Regions from separate parts of the Homo sapiens genome. Here regions 1 and 2 are each linked to region 3. The links come from fine-mapping of genetic effects on gene expression. A gene starts in region 3. Each other region holds a variant in brackets. All regions are shown on one strand. Distances are between the middles of the regions.

Region 1 (2,761 bases), 200 kb after region 3:
CAAGGCTTCTGAGATGATTAGTGGCTGTCTGGTGACATCGGGCTTGCTGAGAAGGCAGGCACCAGGCTGGCTGGAGAAGGTTTGTTGTTGGTGGGCAGGCGCTACGGCGCCCACTGCTGGGTCTTGGTGCATCCAAGGGGAGCCAGCCCTGCAGATCTGCCCAGTGCTGGCCGGCCGGGTGGCCAGTGGGGTCAGTCTGCTTCTTGTGTGGCTCTGCCTCTGGCTTTGCATCAGGTGCAGGGGCAAAGGGGTCATGGCTGGAGAAAAGTGGTCAGTCTTCTGTGGAAAGCCAAGGGGCTTTCTGTGTGTGCTAGAGGGCAGGGCCCATGGGTCTCGCACAGCCCACCACAGGCAGGCCGGGGCCCCTTCTCACCACCTCCCTACCTACTGGTATTTCTCTAGGGCTCCCTCTCCCCTACTTTCTCACAAGCTGAAGAGCCTGTGGCCTCCACCCCCAGCCCCTGGGAAAAAGCCTGGCTAGGAAGCAGTTGCCTGGAGTCCGGCAGGAAACCTGCACTGGTGTGGCGGAGAGAATGGGTGGCTCTTCCTTATCTGCCGGGACGGAGCAGGCCGAGGGGTAAACAGGAGGCTGTCCCAGCACCGGGAATTCCTGGATGAGGTGTTCCTCTTTAACTGGAAGGAAGGGATATCCTGTGTATTAGTCCATTTTCATGCTGCTGATAAAGACATACCTGAGACTGGGAAGAAAAAGAGGTTTAATTGGACTTACAGTTCCACATGGCTGGGGAGGCCTCAGAATCATGGCAGAAGGTAAAAGGAACTTCTTACATGGTGGTGGCAAGAGAAAAACGAGGAAGAAGCAAAAGCGGAAACCCCTGATAAACCCATCAGATCTCATGAGACTTATTCATGAGAATAGCACGGGAAAGACCGGACCCCATGAGTCAATGACCTTCCCTGGGTCCCTCCCACAACATGTGGGAATTCTGGGAGATAGAATTCAAGTTGTGATTTTGGTGGGGACACAGCCAAACCATATTATCCTAACATTGATTATCAAGATGGTCTCATCCAGGAATCCTTCCAGACCCACAGTAGGAAGGGGTGAGATGCATGTTTGATTTTGGGGACTGATGGCCAGGATACTCTCTGGGTTGGAGCCAGGAACCAAGGCCCCTTGAGGCCCGGCTTTGGGGACAAAGCAGAGAGAAATCAGGATCATAGGAG[C/G]ACTGTCTGAGGATCAGCTAGGCCTGGATTCAAATCCAGACCACCCCTCGCCAGTGTGAGCTAAGCCCGCACCTTAGCCTCTCTGAGTCTCATCTGTGGATGGGGGTCACACTGCTTGCCTCCCTGGGCTGCCTGTGACAGTGTGCACACCCTCCACACACCACATTCGGGCCCCAGGTGGACATTTGCTAGGAAACTGCACAGCCTGGTTCCACTTTGTCATTCTGAAGCCACAGCTTGCCTGTGTGAGTGGGGACAAGAATAAGAAAGGACCTTGCCCAAAGTGCTCAGTCTTCAACACTGGCCCCTCTTCTGCAGAGACCTTGCAGGACAGGGCCTAAGGAGATGTTGTGGCCACTCGATGACCTGCCGTCTCTGTAGGGGATCAGGAACCACAGGTCTGGGTTGGCGCTTGGGTGGAGCTGGGGATACATTTGGGAGTCTGGCCCACATCACTGTTAGACACACGGAAGACTCCCGCCAAATCCATAGTCACCAGGCCTGCAGGGACCCTCCGAGGATGTAGAGAGAACTGCCTGACTGAGGATGGGGCAGTCATCCCTTCCTGTGTCCGGGCAACTGGAGAGAGCTGGGAGTCAATACCTCACATGGATGGTGGGGCCCAATAGCCCCGGCCGCATGTGCTTATTGAGCACTTAACATGGGGCTCATGTGAGGGAGGAAGTGAATCTTTAATTTTAGCTTATTCCCATTTAAATGGCCACACACAGCTAGTGGCTGCTGCCTTGGCTAGCCCAGGCTAGGCTGCAGTGGTTCCCAAACTTTCATGAGTATAAGAATCACCCAAGGAGCTTGTTGAAAAGTAGACTCAGAGATTTGGGTTCAGCCGGTCAGGGGAGAGGTCAGGGGAGAGGCTCTGGAGTTGCACCTTAATAAGCAGTCCACACTCTGATTTAGGGGCCACCTGGCCATCCGTTCTGTACTCCTCCTCCTTTCTTTCTTCCCAGCCCAGCTTTCTCTTTTACTGTCTTCTTATTCTGTGCCTTTGCCTCCATCATTTTATTTCCATTCCATTCCATTCCATCTATCTACAATTATGTGTCACTTAACGACAGGGGTACATTCTAAGAAGTGTGTCATTAGGTAATTTTGATATTGTTGTAAACCAAAAATAAAATTGTAAGGCCCCACCAACTATCTGAATGGACTCCTGCTCTCTTCCAAGGGCATTCCAAAGTTAACCTGAAAAACTAGTTCAGGCCTTGACAGGAACTGGGAGCTGGACATACCTCATCATTCCCTCCTCCCTTTTGGAATTACTGACAGAACAGACTCTTTAAGTCTGATAAGAAACATTTACAGTCTGGTCTCCCTGAAGCCTGCTACCTAAAAGCTTCATCTGCATGATCAAACCTTGGCATCCACAACCCCTTATCTCAACCCAGACATTCCTTTCTATTGATAACAACTCAACTAATTGCCAATCCAAAAATCTTTAAATCTACTTATAACTTGGAAGCCCCTGCTTTGAGTTATCCTGCCTTTCTGGACCAAACCAATGTACTGTTACATGTATTGATTGATGTCTCATATCTCCCTAAAATGTATAAAA
Region 2 (2,761 bases), 120 kb after region 3:
TTGAGACCAGACTGGGCAACATAGGAGAACCCACCTCTACAAAAAAATTAAAAATTAGCATGACATGATGGTACATGCCTATGGTCCCAGCTACATAGGAGGCTGAGGCAGGAGGATTGCTTGGGCCTGGGAGGTCTAGGCTGCAGGAAGCCATGATCGCACCAGTGCACTCAAGCCTGGGTGACAGAGCAAGACCCTGTCTTTAAAAAAAAAAAAAAAAAAAAAAAAAAAAAGGAAGGAAGGAAGGAAGGAAGGACGGGATGAAGAGGGGGAAGGGATGATCTTTCTCTGTATGGGCCTTAGGGTTAACTCCTGATCTCAGAGTGAAATACTTTCCTATTCTGGCTGGTCACCTGAACACCTACCCAAATGCATCCATTGAACTTAAATAATCTATAGACAGTTCATAAAATATTTTTTCTGTTTTTGCTTCTAAATTTTTTTACCTGTACTTTTTACATACTTATGAGGTCAAATTGATTGGTCCCATGTTATAATTAAAGAAATGGAATCAGAGAACACTCATGTGACTTGCTTCAAATACAAGCCAAAGTCAGAGTTCAAATTATTCTTTACTAGTTCCTACTTCATTACAAGAAGTCTCCCAAGTTACAAAATAGGTTGTGTTCCAAAAATTCATTTGTAAGTCAGTTATTTGGCATTTGAACTGCATTTTACCATGTGGAAAAAACATGTTATAAGTGATGATTAGGTCCCCAGCTGGCATATAAGAATCTATTTAACTCTTGTGTAACTACAAAACGATACATTTGTAATAAATTTAAAAGAGAATGATAGTTGTGATTCTGATTATGAAGAAAAATAATTTTTTTTTTTTTTTTTTTTTTTTTTTACTGAGGATAAGCAGATTTAATTAGAAGATAGGAAAACATGAAGATTGAGGAGGGTCTAGAGGGGATTTCAGGGTTCTTTGAAGGGAGTTAGAGGTTGATGGGATTCTGTCTGAAGCCCAATGTATTCAGTTCTTGCACTACCATAAAGAAATACCTGGGCTGGGCACAGTGGCTCACGCCTGTAATCCTAATCCCAGCACTTTGGGAGGTCGAGGTGGGCAGATCACCTGAGGTCAGGAGTTCGAGACCAGCCTGGCCAACATGGTGAAACCCTGTCTCTACCAAAAAATACAAAAATTAGCTGGGTGTGGTGGCACACACCTGTGATCCCTGCTACTCAGGAGGCTGAGGTGGGAGAATACTTGAACCCAGGATGTGGAGGTTGCAGTGAGTAAGCCAAGATTACACCACTTCACTACACCCTGGGCAACAGATGGAGATCCTGTCAAAAAAAAAAAAAGGCCGGGCGCAGTGGCTCACGCCTGTAATCCCAGCACTTTGGGAGGCTGAGGCGGGCGGATCACGAGGTCAGGAGATCGAGACCATCCTGGCTAACAC[G/A]GTGAGATCCCGTCTCTACTAAAAAATATGAAAAATTAGCCAGGCGTGGTGGTGGGCGCCTGTAGTCCCAGCTACTTGGGAAGCTGAGGCAGGAGAATGGCATGAACCTGGGAGGTGGAGCTTACAGTGAGCCGAGATCGCGCCACTGCACTCCAGCCTGGGTGACAGAGCAAGACTCCATCTCAAAAAAAAAAAGAAAAGAAAAAAAAATAACCTGAGACTGGGTAATTTATAAAGAAAAGAGGTTTCATTGGCTCACGATTCTGCAGGCTGTACAGGAAATATGGCAGCACCAGCTCAGCTTCTGGCGAGGCCTTAGGAAATTCACAATCATGGCAGAAGGTAAAGGGGAAGCTGGCCAGAGAAGGAGAAAGTTGGCCGGGGACATGTGTCACATGCTTTTAAACAACCAGATCTCAGGAGAACCCACTCACTATCATGAGAACAGCACAAAGAGGGAAATCTAGCCCCATAATCCAATCACCTCCCACCACGCCCCACCTCCAACACTGAGGATTACAGTTCGACATGAGATTTGGGCAGGACACAGATCCAAACCCTATCAGCCAGTTTCACTTTGAAACTTTTAAGTCATTTGTTGTTATTAGATGCTTCTCACTGGCATGACTTACCCAGCATCTGTGATTAGAATCAGTAGAATTGATTGAATTAAATACCTAGGAAAAAGTAGACTATTTGAGATGATACATTAACCAACCTGGGATGGTAAAAACAAACTAACAAATTAGAAGTATTCTTTCCTTCAGCCCTCCTGATGGAAAGGGCAGGAGGAGTTGACTTTCCCATTTAGCCCAGCAGATTCCCATCAGCTGTGATAGTTTAACTGAGGTACAGGTGGAGGTTGGAGAAAAGCGTGTGCCTGCAGTGATTTCTTTGAATGGAGTGCTCGTACAATGAGAGTTTCTAATTCTGGGAAATAATTACATTGATCTCATCTAGTGATTGTTTCCTACATTATCTAAGACACAATTAAACATCTTAAATTTCAATTAGCTTTTTTAAAAAACGTCCAGTGCTTCTTTAAATGTCCTTTATGTTTTGTTATTTTCATAACCTTTGCATATGGCTTTTTCTTTTGTTAACAACAAAAGGGAGGTTATATTCTTCAGTAAACTGAAGCATAAATGAGCAGATCTTGCTGAGATGGCACATTTAGAAAATGATGAGATTAGTTCTTGCCTCCTGGATCACATTAGTGCTCTTGCCGGTCAGTATATCTACCCTACCTCCTGCTAGTTTAGATAATACATTAACTACTATTACTCTGTGTTGGGTATATTCTTTGAATGTTTTACAGTGGATGTTTGTTTAACACTGGGAACATTGGA
Region 3 (2,761 bases):
AGTTGATGTTATGCCCTCTAAGTACAGACTTTCTACACGATATCCATTCCTCATTTTCTTCTACTGTAATCCTATCTCCATATATTGCAATGTATGGCCTTTTGCTGGCAAAAGGAGAAAAAAAGAAAAATGTATGTATTATACCATTCCTTTTTAAAAAGGCAAAGAAAGGGCTTGGTGTGCAAGAGAGTATTTATTAAACACTGGTAGCAAAGAAAACAAACAAAAAATGCAACAGTCCTCATTACTGTAGCTGGTGTTGAAGCTTCTTTCTTCTGGGCCCATTCCATAGTTCCCTGTGACTTCAGTTAGCATCTCAGTTGGTTGGGGTGATTTGCTCAATGCAGCAACCTGAGGGGTATGATCCCTTGTGGTCCTGCCTTTATAGGGTTGTGGTAGCCGTCTATTGCCTTTACATCTGGGTATGGCAGTTCAAGAAAGCACCCTCAAGGATAAAACATGCTATTCATGATGTATTATTTTTCTTTGATGACTAGGACAATCCCCCTAGTCAACCCCATGACTCACTGTTTTGTCTATTCCCTTAGATGACCCCACGGATTCCGTTGCACGGAGTCTCTGAAGTCCAAAATTTTTAAGCATAGGGCACAACGTTCTTCATGATTTGGCCTTGTCTCTTCTCATTATGCTTGCTCTTGCATCTGCCATCTGACACTTTGCTTAACTCCTGGCCAGCTACCGGTACAAGCCAAGCTCTCACTCCATAACGTCCTTCTTCTCTGCATGCCCTTCTCCACTGTGCCTGTCCTTTAACTCTTATTCATCATTTATTTCAGTCTCAATTGAAGAGTCATTATTTCTAGAAAGCCTTCTCCGCCCAGCTCTCTACATTGCACCGTTCCCTACAGCACCACCAGAGTGCCTCTAACACTTGATGGTTTCATTGCTTATATATTTTTGTTTCTGTGCATAAGCCTCCCGAGGGAGCCGCCGCTGTTCGATTTATTCTATAGCTAGTTCCTCGCCCTGAGTGTAAGCCTCACGAGAGTGGGGCTGTCCTCTGTTCGCTCTATCCCCAGCCCCTACAGCAGTGCCTGGTTGTTCACAGGCCTATATAGCAGGTGATAATAATCTGAATAATGAAAGAAGAAACACTGTCTTGTGGCGTGATTTACTTCTGTTTTTACTTATGTCAACTTTTAACTAGATTGTGAGGACAGAGGTCAGTGTCTGAGTCATCTTGTGCCTCACTGGGCTTGGGCAGAATAGACGCTTGGTCAAGCATTTGCACACTGGTCGATGGATACACTAGAAAGAGCAGGAGCGCGAGAGGGAATTTTTTTGGCGCCTGCCTCGCCCTTTCAAGCCAAGCCCCTCTGCCCTCTGCCCCTTGCCAGCCGCCCGTCGCCCGCCGCCGGCGATCCCTCTCCCGGGGAGCGGTAGTCAAGCGAGGCCAGCGGGCCGGGAGCGGGCCGGGAGCGGGCGAGGGGCGGGACTTCCGGTCCCGCTCGCGACGCGGACCGCGCCAGGCGGAAGCCCGGCTCCGGGCCAGCATCCGAGAGCCCGGACTGGAGGTGAGTTCGCAGCCGGAACGTTGCAGGCACTTGTTTCCTCAGTGGATGCCTTTCGGCGCGCCGCCGCCCGGCGCCGCGGGACTGGGAGACCGGGTAGGGACGGGAGAGTCGGCATCTCCCGCGCGTGTGGAGGGAAATCCGGGACCCCAGGCTTGAGAGAAGGGCCAGGACTGAGAACGGGGAACCAGGAGAGCCCTAAGGGCAGCCTTTAGGGACTGAGGAGGGAGGCACCGGGGACCCTGAGGCCAAAGAGGCCCTGAGACTGGAGGTTGCGGATGACACGGGGCAGAGTTGCATCTCGGAGGAAAGTAGTCATTCGTGGGGGCGTGTCCCGGGTCCTGGCGGATTGACTGAGAGGATGGCAGGAGATGGCAAAGGTTGGCTTCCAGGGAGAGGTTACAGAGGAGGGAGTCAGTCCTTCTCTGAGGGTCGTAGGTGAGAAGGACGTCTTGACCTAACGAACCAGAAAGATGACCAGCCACCTATTGGATGCTGAACTCCTATTGCTTCATTTGCAATTCATGCAGTTTGTTTTTTGTTTTTAGAAATATATCCCGCTCCGCGCGTGTGGATTTCGGGAAAATATTGTATATTCCTAGGGACCGCTCGAATTCTTGCTTCACCCAGATTCTGCGTGTCTTTGTCAAACTGATAGTAGTTGAGAGTTCTCTTCACCCAAGGAAGACAACCAAAGTTTTCCTTTTGGACTCTTCTCTACCCTGCAGAGTTTAGCTTGTCTTATTTCCCTTGTCATGGGATGAACTAAATGCGTTCAGAATTATGGTGATAATCACATGGAAAGCCAGTGCTGTCAATGTTTGCAGTTTCAACTCATTGTTTTTCTGTCCAACTTTCTAACACATTTTTTCTAAAAGCTATTTTGTTGGGTTTAGTCTTTTAGTTTAACCAATAAAGGCAATTTTACATCAGGGTGCAGCAAATTACTAGCAGTTCTTAAGATTTTACTGTTCCTTTTTATTTCTGCTGTAAGGAAATATATATATATATATATATATATATATATAAATATTTGCCATTGTCAGTGTTTTTTAAAAATATTGATAACCCAAGATCTGTTGTTACACGCACATTAGCACATTTAGTTTTCCCCAGTGGCCAGTGTTTGGTATGTGGGCTCATTATTATTACCAAAGGTAATTATTGATTTAGTTATTATTTACCTTGCATTTATGTTTTATTGGATGTGATTAATATGTGCTTCCTAA

Which allele goes with the higher level. Positions count from the first base shown, and alleles are read on the strand shown. Sizes are in standard deviations (SD) of each study's normalised expression.
For the expression in thyroid of the gene that starts at base 1,496 in region 3, allele G in region 1 goes with a higher level than allele C (small effect, 0.29 SD a copy in GTEx).
With allele G in place of A in region 2, the expression in cerebellar hemisphere of the gene that starts at base 1,496 in region 3 is lower (moderate effect, 0.67 SD a copy in GTEx).

Evidence for each region. PIP is the estimated chance that this variant, and not a neighbour inherited with it, causes the effect. A credible set is the group of variants that fine-mapping cannot tell apart.
Region 1: its variant is the best candidate, but not a certain one, in a credible set for the expression of DISP1 in thyroid (GTEx, PIP 0.89).
Region 2: its variant is the best candidate, but not a certain one, in a credible set for the expression of DISP1 in cerebellar hemisphere (GTEx, PIP 0.89).

Annotation. Positions count from the first base shown.
Region 1 is chr1:223,016,965-223,019,725 of GRCh38, forward strand. No RefSeq gene overlaps it. Among named protein-coding and RNA genes, the nearest start is that of TLR5, 120 kb to the right of the region's middle. The variant C/G (reference allele first, on the strand shown) is at 1,189.
Region 2 is chr1:222,938,530-222,941,290 of GRCh38, forward strand. The region is part of intron 2 of DISP1 (dispatched RND transporter family member 1); the gene reads left to right. Among named protein-coding and RNA genes, the nearest start is that of DISP1, 120 kb to the left of the region's middle. The variant G/A (reference allele first, on the strand shown) is at 1,413.
Region 3 is chr1:222,813,544-222,816,304 of GRCh38, forward strand. DISP1 (dispatched RND transporter family member 1) reads left to right here and starts at 1,496. Exons shown (of 9, transcript NM_001377229.1): 1 at 1,496-1,535. RefSeq lists an enhancer at 887-946 and silencers at 1,187-1,266, 1,357-1,456.